Linked DNA regions of Homo sapiens. The protein of the gene in region 2 purifies or fractionates together with the protein of the main gene of each other region. This does not show direct contact. Each region holds a gene or a part of one and is shown on either strand. Other genes may lie near its edges.

Region 1 (3,654 bases), on a different chromosome or scaffold from region 2:
TGATTAGTTTTACTTAAATGAGTCTGATATGTTAGAAGAACCTGTTCGTGAAGAATTTTGGTTGTTGATGTATATTTTTTAAGTACCTCAGGAATTAAAGTATGTGTGCAGTGCCTTACATTTACGCAGATGAGGATATGTTTGTAGCCTTCTGGAGAGAACTAGAGAAGCCAACTTTTTAAAAATGGAAATTTGGAAATCCTTTGTGTGTGTGTTAAGGAAAGAAAAGTAAGAAGGAAAAAGAAAGTGAGCAACTGGGATTCAGGCAAGAATATCTGCTGTCATAATAATAATTTAAGTGACAGAGCAAGCTGCTGATAGGAGATGGTTATTATCCTGATAATATTGAATCTTCAGGTGGCATATGAAGTGAGTTTCCATAGTCCCTGAAAAGGAATATAGCAATAGAAAAATATGTTTCAGAGACTGAGATGATCTAATGAGCGATACTGATAGAGTATATTCCACGGTATCATTGGAGTTAGCCAGCCAGTGAGCTTACCTTCTGGAGGCTATTGAAATTAAAACTCCTAGGTTAAGTTAGTTTTTCTCAGGAGCCAGAAATGAAATTTAAAAACAAAATTTAAGCATATTAAATATTTTGCTCATCGGCTTTGTGAAAAGTTGAGATTACCAGCCCGGTTACCTGGTTCTAGCTGAACTCTAACAGGCTTGTTTATACATTATTTACTAATGTTTAGAATCTGAAATCCAAAATCACTTCTCCTCTTTTTCAATCATTATTTTCTTTGGTACAGGACTTGTTTACACTGGGCATGTAAACGAAACCATGGTCAGGTGGTCTCTTACCTGTTAAAATCAGGAGCTGACAAAGAAATTCTTACCACAAAAGGAGAAATGCCAGTCCAGTTAACATCAAGGAGAGAAATCAGGAAGATTATGGGAGGTGAGTCTGTGTTTGGGGGAACTTTTGATTTCCTCAGACTCATTGAAGACTTGTGGTATTATTGGCTACGTTCTTAATGCTGGTCAAACAACTGCTCTATTTCTTTCTTTTTTTTTTTTTTTCCGAGACGGAGTTTAGCTCTTGTTGCCCAGGCTGGAGTGCAGTGGCGTGATCTCGGCTCACCACAACCTCTGCCTCCCAGGTTCAAGTGATTCTCCTGCCTCAGCCTCCCAAGTAGCTAGGATTACAGGCATGTGCCACCACGTCTCGCTAATTTTGTATTTTTAGTAGAGACGGGGTTTCACCATGTTGGTCAGGCTGGTCTCAAACTCCCGACCTCAGGTGATCCGCCAGCCTCAGCCTCCCAAAGTGCTGGGATTACAGGCATGAGGCACCGCTCCCGGCAACTGTTCTATTTCTAAAAGCAAATTACTGTGCCAAGATAGTAATTCCAGATTGTTTCTGGGGAGGTCAGCATTGTAAGGTTTTATTTTTTTATTTGTAAAATTTAAGATAATGATAAAAATGGTAATCATAAACCTAATGAAGTATTCTTTTTTCTTCTGACCTGACACTGACCAATGTCACATACCAAAAGACACCACTTTCAAAAGACACCTTGTTTTGATAATTTTGAAAGGACTGTGTAAATGTTCTGTTTTCTTCTTTTTAAGTGGAAGAAGAAGATGATGATGATGATGATGATGACAACCTCCCCCAGCTGAAGAAGGAGTCAGAACTGCCCTTTGTTCCCAACTATTTGGCCAACCCAGCCTTCCCTTTTATCTATACACCCACAGCAGAGGATTCAGCCCAGATGCAGAATGGGGGCCCCTCCACACCCCCTGCATCACCCCCTGCAGATGGCTCACCTCCATTGCTTCCCCCTGGGGAACCTCCCCTGTTAGGGACCTTTCCCCGGGACCACACCTCTTTGGCACTAGTTCAGAATGGTGATGTGTCGGCCCCCTCTGCCATACTCAGAACACCAGAAAGCACAAAACCGGGTCCTGTTTGTCAGCCACCAGTGAGTCAGAGCCGCTCCCTGTTTTCTTCTGTCCCGTCCAAGCCACCAATGTCTCTGGAGCCTCAAAATGGGACGTATGCAGGACCAGCGCCAGCATTCCAGCCATTTTTCTTCACTGGAGCATTTCCATTTAATATGCAAGGTAACCCCTCATCAGCAAACAGCCTCTGCAACAGGGGAGTTGGTGTCCAGAGGGGTGGGATTTAATGAGGTATTCTGGGTATAATTGCAAACTTACAGAAACGTTACATGACTAACATAAGGAACTCCCTTTACTCAAATTCACAAATTGTTTACCTTTTGCCCTTTTACCCTGATACCCTTCAGTATTCTTTCCATTATATCTTTCCTAAGAACAAGGATATTCTCTCTTTTTTTTATTGAGACGTAGCTTCGCCCTGTCACCCAGGCTGGAGTACAGTGGTGTGATCTTGGCTCACTGCAACCTCCGCCTCCCAGGTTCAAGTGATTCTTCTGCCTCAGCCTCCCAAGTAGCTGAGATTACAGGAGCATGCCACCACGCCTGGCTAATTTTTTTTTTTTTTTTTTTTTTTTGTATTTTTAGTAGAGATGGGGTTTCACCATGTTGGCCAGGCTGGTCTCAAACTCCTGACCTTAAGTGATCTGCCTGCCTCAGCCTCCCAAAGTGCTGAGATTATAGGTGTGAATCACCGCACCCAGCTGGATATTCTCTTATATAACTACAGTACAAATGACCAAATTTGAGAAATGTAATCTTGAGCTAATGCTGTTCTGTAATCCATAGACCATGTTTAAATTTTGTCAGTTGTCTCAAACATTGCCTTTTGTATTCCCTCATCTACTATACGTACTGTCTGTACTATTACAGAAATAGTACTATCTGTACTATTGATATCTATCTGGACTATCTGTACTCCTCTGCCCCCTGCATCCTGCCCAGGATCATATGTTGCATGTAGTTATCACGTTGTTTTAGTTTCCTTTAATCTGGAATCTTTACCCTTTATCATTTTTGATCTTGATCTTTTTGAAGAGTCCAGGCCAATTATTTTTGTGGGATATGATTTTCTATCATTCTTTCTCTACTTATTAGTTGGTATTTTACTGTAAAGAAGGGCTTTCCCTTCTCCTTCATTCATATCAGTATTGACTCATATATTCTTATTTTATTCAGTGGGTTATAATCTGTTACTATCATTTTTTAATTATTCAAATTATCCCAGATTTGGCCAGTGGGAGCCCCTTGAAGCTAGTTCTTATGTCCCTTGCATGTGTCTTCATTGTTCTTGGAGCACTGCCTTACTTTCTGGGGCAGCAAGATGTTCCGGGCTTATAGCATAACTTTTCCTGCCCCAACCCTGGAATCAGTCATTTCTCCAAGAAGCCCTGGTTCTTTTTGGTGGAGAATGGTATTTAGGGCACACAGCAAACTTGCCTCCCACTTGGGCCCACCGAGAATGGTATTCAGACACCAGGATGTGGTCACTAGGTGTCCTCATTGCTACAGGTATATCATTTCTTCTAGGCCCGTTGAGAGGACATAGCCAGGAAAGATATCAATATTTCTCTATGTATAACTTTTTAAAAATATTAAAAACCACAAGTTCATCCTGATTCTTCCAAATCCAGTCAAATGCCATAGGGTGTAGCTAGTCTTACTTTTCCTTTTTTCCTGGAAGTAACTCTCTCACTTCCTGTTTTTGAGGAGTTACTACTGTAGGTGCTAACAGTGACCTGG
Region 2 (3,654 bases):
ACTCTGTCTCAAAAAAAAAAAAAAATTGCGTTAAGAACTTTATGTGTGTCATTTTACATACATTCTTTATTGTGTGCCGTCTGTTCCTCATTTTCTACAGTCTCTTGAAGCGGTCTCCGAATGTGGAGCTCTCCTTCCCACAGCGATCAGAAGGCTCAAATGTCTTTAGTGGTAGAAAGACAGGAACATTGTTTCTCACTTCATACCGGGTAATTTCTACTTCTACTTTAATCTGCTGATTAACTCTACATTTGTTTTCCTTGAAATGAAGAAAACTTAAACATTGACTTTTGAAGTGTTTTTAAACGTGCGCTTTGGGATTTTCCACACTGAAGGGTGGTGGAAGAAAAGATGATGTTTCTCAGTTAGACCAGAATGCACCTTGCTCTTGTAAGTCTCAATCCATGGACAAATTCTGCATTCCTTTTCCAAAGTTTCTGTCCTTGCGTAGGTGATTTTCATAACTTCATGCTCCATCAGTGATCCCATGTTGTCTTTTATGATGCCATTTGATCTGATGACGAACCTCACTGTTGAACAACCAGTATTTGCTGCAAACTTCATTAAGGGAACTATTCAGGCAGCTCCATATGGTAAGTGTTCCCTCAGAAGTGTGTATTTTTTTTTCCCTCAAAATCTTCTAAAAGGTTTAAGATTCAAACTTGGCTCATGTTGAAATTCAAACAAAAGCTGCCCTACTTTGTCAGGTAGTGCTTCCCTTGGTGTTTGTGGCAGTCTTTCTGTTGTCAGCTATGCCAGTTTCTTGGTGAGTGTGTGCCATTTCTTCCCCCAGGTGGCTGGGAAGGACAAGCTACTTTTAAATTAGTCTTCAGAAATGGAGATGCCATTGAATTTGCCCAGTTGATGGTGAAAGCTGCCTCTGCTGGTAAGTGATGCTGATAAAGATATTAAGCACTTTGGGGTTTTTTGTTTGTTTGTTTGGGTTTTTTGTTGTTGTTGTTGCTGTTGTTGTTGTTTTGTTGTTTTTGAGACAGGGATTTTTGTATTTTTGTAAGTCGGGGTTTCACCATGTTGCCCAGGCTGGTCTCGAACTCCTGAACTCAAATGATCCTCTTGCCTCAGCCTCCCGAAGTGCTGGGGTTACAGGTATGAGCCACCATGCCCAGCCCACTTTGGGGTTTTAAGGCTTGTGGAATTAAAGCAGGACTTCTACTCAGCCAAGATTTGCTGGCCTTTGTGGCCAGGCAGTTGGTATTCGCACACATATTCAGCAGGCATTTCCTGGGCCTACCTACAATTGTCAAGTACCATGTTACAGGGTAGGAACACAAAGATTATTCAGTCCCTTCCTATCCTGAAGGAGCTTGCAATCTAGTGGGAGCTTACAGCCAGACACCCAGGTGACTAATTATACCTGATAGTCTTTTGTCCATTTAAACACTGACCTCAGATATCTACTGAGCGTCTCTTCCTTGGGTCAGGGAGCCCTTAGTTATTCTTTCTTTGGTGTGGCTTTTTAGTTTTTCTTCTCTCTGGACTTGCCTTTGCTTTTCTCAGGTTTAGTCCCCATCTTACATGAGAGGGGAGTAGAGGTACTGTCAAGACTTATAGCACTGATCTAATGGATGTACCACAGAACTCTTTCAAACTGTGACTACAAATAATTTTTTTATCTCATATATGTGTGTGTGTGTGTGTATATATATATATATATATATATATATATATATATATATATTTTTTTTTTTTTTTTTTTTTTTTTTTTTGAGACAGTGTCTTGCTTTGTCACCCAGGCTGGAGTGCAATCATGCAATCTTGGCTCACTGCAACCTCCACCTCCCGGGTTCAAGTGATTCTCCTCCCTCAGCCTCCCAAGTAGCTGGGATTACAAGTGTCCACCACCAAGCCCAGCTAATTTTTGTATTTTTAGTAGAGACGGGGTTTCACCATGTTGGTCAGGCTGGTCTCGAACTCCTGACCTCAGGAGATCCACCTGCCTCAGCCTCCCAAAGTGCTGGGATCACAGGCGTGAGCCAGCACGCCTGGCCGGTCCTTGCGATCTTTAACCCATGGCTTCCATGGCCTCTTTGTACAGCCAGCAGAGAAGGAAATAAAGATCTCCCCTGGGAAATTTTTATGGGCCAGGCCTGGAAACTGTCTACATTACATCTGGTCACATGCCATAGGCAAAACTCAGTGTGGTAGGCTGATAATGGATCCCCAGATATATCCCCATCCCAATCCTCAGAATCTGTGACTGTTACGTTATTTGTAAAAAGGGTGTTTGTAGACGTAATTAATTTAAGGATCTTGAGATGACAAGATTACCCTAGATTATTTAGGTGGCCTCTAAATGCCATCACAAGTGTTCTTATAAGAGAGATGCAGAGGGGAGACAAGACAAAAGTGTTTTCTTCGGTACCACACTTCCTCACATTGGTCTTTAATGGATATATCTTACCAACTTGGTAGAATCCTCACTTAGAAGTTTTTTCTGAATATCTGTTATGATTAGGTGCTATGCTAGGCCTGGAATAAGCACAGGCAAATGAGATACAATCTCTGCCCTTAAGACACGTGCCATTCAGGACAAGGGTCATATTTCTTTTCTTTCTTTCTTTTTTTTTTTTTTTTTTGAGACAAGGTCTTACTCTGTCACCCAGGCTGGAGGCTCCAGTGCAGTGGCACAGATAAGGCTCACTGCAGCCTCAAATTTCCAGGCTCAAGCAATCCTCCTGCCTCAGCTTCCTGAGTAGCTAGGACCACAGGCATGCACCACCATGCCTGGCTAATTTTTAAAAAATTTTTTGTAGAGATAGGGTCTTGCCATGTTGCCCAGGCTGGTCTTGAACTCCTGGGGTCAAGCAATCCTCCCATCTTGGCCTCCTAAAATGTTGGGATTACAGGTGTGAGCCACTTCACCCAGCCCATGTTTCTTTTTTATCTTGTGTCTCAAGAGCATTGTTGGAAACACATGTAAGGTGGTGATTAAATACTCTGTTAATTGTTTAGTTGATATCTGCTATATATCTGACTTAATTAAAAGAGTTCCTATTTTGCCAAATTTGTCTTTCCAGCTGCCCGAGGATTTCCACTTAGAACCTTAAATGACTGGTTCAGCTCTATGGGAATTTATGTAATTACTGGGGAAGGGAATATGTGCACTCCACAGATGCCTTGTTCAGGTAAGGTATGGCAGAGAGGTTCTTCCTGGAAGGTGGAAAATTATGCCAGAGGCTCAAAGATCTATCCCTTGCAGGCTTGCTCCCTGCAGGAGCAGCAGCAGAGCTTTAGGGGCTTGGAAAATGGTCACATCTGTGACTTTGTTTCCAGACTGAAACCCAGTGGCAAAGTCAGCAAGTGACTGGGCTTTGGTTTCAGGCTTACTTTTAATGATATATACAAACCTGGAACATACTTGGCAATCCTGTTAGTGGGAAGGGTCACTTCCTGTTTATAGCCTGAGCAGAAAATATATGCTCTTGCCCACTTCCTTGTTTCCATTTCACATAGCATAGTCATCATACCTGTGCCACACCCTTCAACCTTACTGAGGACTCGAGCCCTGGGTCCTTTAACAGTTTGTGTTGTTAAAGTCCACTGCTACTGAATGGGGTTTCTGGAAAGTAATTCTCAAACATGGTCCACTGCCTACTGGTGGGCCACCAAGGGTCTCCTAATGCTGCCAACACA
Region 3 (3,654 bases), on a different chromosome or scaffold from region 2:
CTTGAAAATATCAAAAGTACAAATCCATATATCATCCTATGACAAAGAATTGTTCCCAGGACTTTAAGTTTTCTTAATTCACTGTTAAAACCCACTATAGGACTTTATTTTAAATACACACACCTGTGATAAATGATATCTATACAAGATTATCCCCTGCATTCCCACTTATAACAGCAAAAGACTAGACAGGAAGAGAGAAGTCCTTAAAATGGTAAAACAAATGATGACACATCCATAGAGTGGAATGTTAACAGTCACAAAAGAGAATGTATAAGCTTAATGAATGCATGCAAAAAGTATCTACAAGATATATTAAGCGTAAAATGTTCAGAAGAGTTGTAAATTATGCCACACATCTTTTAAAAGTTTTTTATTGTACCTCTTAAACTTCAGACAGGGAGAACACGTGCAGGTTTGTTTACATGAGTCTACTGCATAATATAAGGTTTGGGCTTCTAATGATCCCATCATCCAAGCAGTGAACATAGTACCTGATAGGTAGTTTTTCAACCCTTGTAAAAGATTTTTCCTTTTTAAAATCAAAGAAATAGACAGTATTTCGGTCTTTAAAATAAATAAAAAGCCAAAGAATGAAAAAGAACATGTACATATTTGCTTTACACAGACTATCTCTGGAAAGACAGAAAAGAAAACAGTAGTATTGGTCATATCCAAGGAAAACTTGATGACTTGGAAAAGATACCCTTTTACACTTTGTAAATTTTGTGTCTTGTGAACACACAACCTTTAAAAACTAAAACACAGGCCAGGTGGGCAGGTGCAGTGGCTCACACCGGTAATTCCATCACTTTAGGAGGCCCATGTGGGAGTAACGTTTGAGGTCAAGAGTTCAAGACCAGCCTGGTCAAAATAGCCAGTCAGTCTCTACCAAAAAAAAAAAAAAAATAGCAGGTATGGTGGCCAGGAGGCTGAGGCAGGAGGACACCTTCAGCAGCCCTGGAAGTTCAGGTTGCAGTGAGCCATAACCATATCACTGCACTCCAGCCTAGGAGACAGAGTGAGACCCCGTCTCTTTAAAAAAATAAAAAATAAAGTTAAAATTAGTTAATTATTAAAGGTTATAAAGAAAAAGGTCACATATATTGTATGATTCCATTTATATGAGATGTCCAACACAGGCAAATCTAGAGAAACAAAGTAGATTAGTGGTTTCAGGGGAAGGGGTAACTGGGACTAACTGCTAATGGGTGTGGGATTTCTTTTTGGTGTATACTTTAAAATGATGAATTATATGTTATGTGAATTATATCTCAATAAAAAGTTATAATAAAGAAATGAGGCCGGCCATGGTGGCTCATGCCTATAATGCCAGCACGTTGGGAGGCTGAGGCAGGAGGATCGCTTAAGCCCAGGAGTTTGAGACCAACCTGGAAAACACAGTGAGACTCCATCTCTACAATGGTGTGTAGCTGTAGTCCCAGCTACTTGAGTGGCTGAGGTGAGAGGATCCCTCGAGCCTGGGGGTGGGGAGGCCAAGGCTGCAGTGAGCTGTGATGGTGCCACTGCACTCCAGTCTAGATGACAGAGTGAGACCCTGTCTCAAAAAAAAAAAACCAAAACGAAATCTGATTGCTAAAATCAACCGAACTCATATGCCAAATTAAAGCTACAGCTTCCAGTTTTTATACAAAAAGGAAGATGCTACATCACCACCACTCCTGTGTAAGTGGGTCAGTAATCTTAATCAAATTCAGCCACTTATTAGTCTTCTTCATTATAATTAAAAAGTATTTTACCTTTCATCAGAGCTAATGATGAGCAGCAAAAGCACCTAATCTGAATTTTACCTCTTCTTACAAGATTGGTCATACAGCTCCAAAGCTTAAAATATCTGTTAGTCTACAGATAATAGATATTTTTAAAATCACGACTTCAAAAGGTTTACTATTGTTTCCTATTATGACTAGAGATAAAAATAGAAATTCACTTCCCAACACTAAAGCACTAATATCAGGAAAGGTCAGGAACAACAACAACAAAAAATCTCTCCTCTGATGTGAAGTTTATTTTTAAAAGAGATAAAATGTACAGTGATTCTTTTCAAAAGCTGCCTCAAGCTTTTACCTATGAAGTTGATTGGTTTTCTAAAACTAACACACTTAGGCGATACCTATCAGAGACTGACAAAACAAAACTAAACGGAAGTCACAAATAAGGTAAAATATTAAAGCTTAAAGAACTGGCAAAAAAAAAATACCTCTACAATGATGTATAATTCAAACAATGCAAACTCCTAGCTTGTACTTATTAATTCATAAACTTCAAGGTTTTATTACAAATCACCAACTATTTTTGTGAATAAGTATGCAAAACATCCTTTGTGTGTATGTGTTCCACGTGAGCACAACATCCTTAGGTGCATTTCATATGACTAAGGCAGCAAAGAAGTATATGAAAAAAAATCTAGTTATCCCAAACCTATAAATTACATGAAAAGGTGCCGAATTTATTAAACATCTTTCTATAAACTAAAATTTTGGTTTTCAGATCATTACCAGTAAAACCAAGACAGAGAAGTTTTAACCAATTCTTTAAAAATTACTGTCTTTTAAAGATTAATCTATGAAATGTCAAAGATGCAGTTGACAAAAACCCAGTTTGGTGAAAATCAGACTGCACTTGAAGTAAATTTTACACTAACTTTATATACACACACTGAGTTTTTCTTTCTGCCGAAGCAAAATATTAGTGCAGAGAAGTCATATCAACCTATTTCAACTTTGTGCACAGGCATATAATAAAAAAATGTAAAAATGTGCCTGAAGACAGGAAAATAAACTTCTGACTTATGATTTGTATAAGGCCGGTTTTTTAACTCCACTAATCAAATTAATCCATTAGTTGATGAAAATGCATTGAATTAAAGACTTAATTTATGACTAAAACCATCTCTATCTTGAGCCATAACAGCTACTGGTTTAAGAACATGGAATGAAATTCTTATTCTACATCAATCTAGGCACAGATTCCACTTCGCTATAAGCATATGCCTAGGTTTGGAGCTACCATATGAATTTTCTTTTTTTTCTAAGATAAATATTGTAAAACATTTGAATTTTCTAATCAAAGGGCAGTCAATTAAGGATATTCAGCTGTTTCAGACACACCAAGACCACTCTAAAGTCTACTTAAGCCAACCGCAAAACTCAAATGTACTTTAGAAAGGGGTAGGCTAGGCCGGGAGCGGTGGCTCGCGCTTGTAATCCCAGCACTTTGAGGGGCTGAGGCGGGCGAATCACCTGATGTCAGGAGTTCAAGATCAGCCTGGCCAACATGACAAAACCCTCTCTCTACAAAAAATACAAAAAATTAGCCGGGCGTCGTGTTGCGCACCTGTAGTCCCAGCTACTCGGGAGGATGAGGCAGGAGGTTGCAATGAGCCGAGATAGCACCACTGCATTCTAGCCTTGGAGATAGTGTGAGACTCGGTCTCAAAATAATAACAACAACAACAACAACAATAATAATAATAAAGAAAAGAAAAGGGTAGGCTACTCATGAAGAAATAAATCTTCTAGCAACATCCTAAAAATACTCTGGGAAACTAAAAGCTTTAATGAAAACCACAATTTTGGTATATATATACCTTAACATTCAAAAACTTTCAATTCGGCTTTTCAACATCAAATT

What was found.
Region 1: the proteins of WBP2NL (region 2) and ANKRD40 purify together in Homo sapiens (affinity purification with mass spectrometry; one large-scale study listed by BioGRID and IntAct). This does not show direct contact.
Region 3: the proteins of WBP2NL (region 2) and MGA purify together in Homo sapiens (affinity purification with mass spectrometry; 3 studies listed by BioGRID and IntAct, with this or other methods). This does not show direct contact.

The regions. Positions count from the first base shown.
Region 1 is NC_000017.11:50,697,821-50,701,474, reverse strand, and holds part of ANKRD40 (ankyrin repeat domain-containing protein 40), read left to right. Parts: intron 1-758; coding exon 759-907; intron 908-1,581; coding exon 1,582-2,076; intron 2,077-3,654.
Region 2 is NC_000022.11:42,019,211-42,022,864, forward strand, and holds part of WBP2NL (postacrosomal sheath WW domain-binding protein), read left to right. Parts: intron 1-100; coding exon 101-209; intron 210-434; exon of another isoform or gene 435-451; coding exon 452-593; intron 594-793; coding exon 794-886; intron 887-3,038; coding exon 3,039-3,146; intron 3,147-3,654. UniProt on the Homo sapiens protein: May play a role in meiotic resumption and pronuclear formation, mediated by a WW domain-signaling pathway during fertilization.
Region 3 is NC_000015.10:41,663,316-41,666,969, reverse strand, and holds part of MGA (MAX gene-associated protein), read right to left. Parts: intron 1-3,654. UniProt on the Homo sapiens protein: Functions as a dual-specificity transcription factor, regulating the expression of both MAX-network and T-box family target genes. Functions as a repressor or an activator.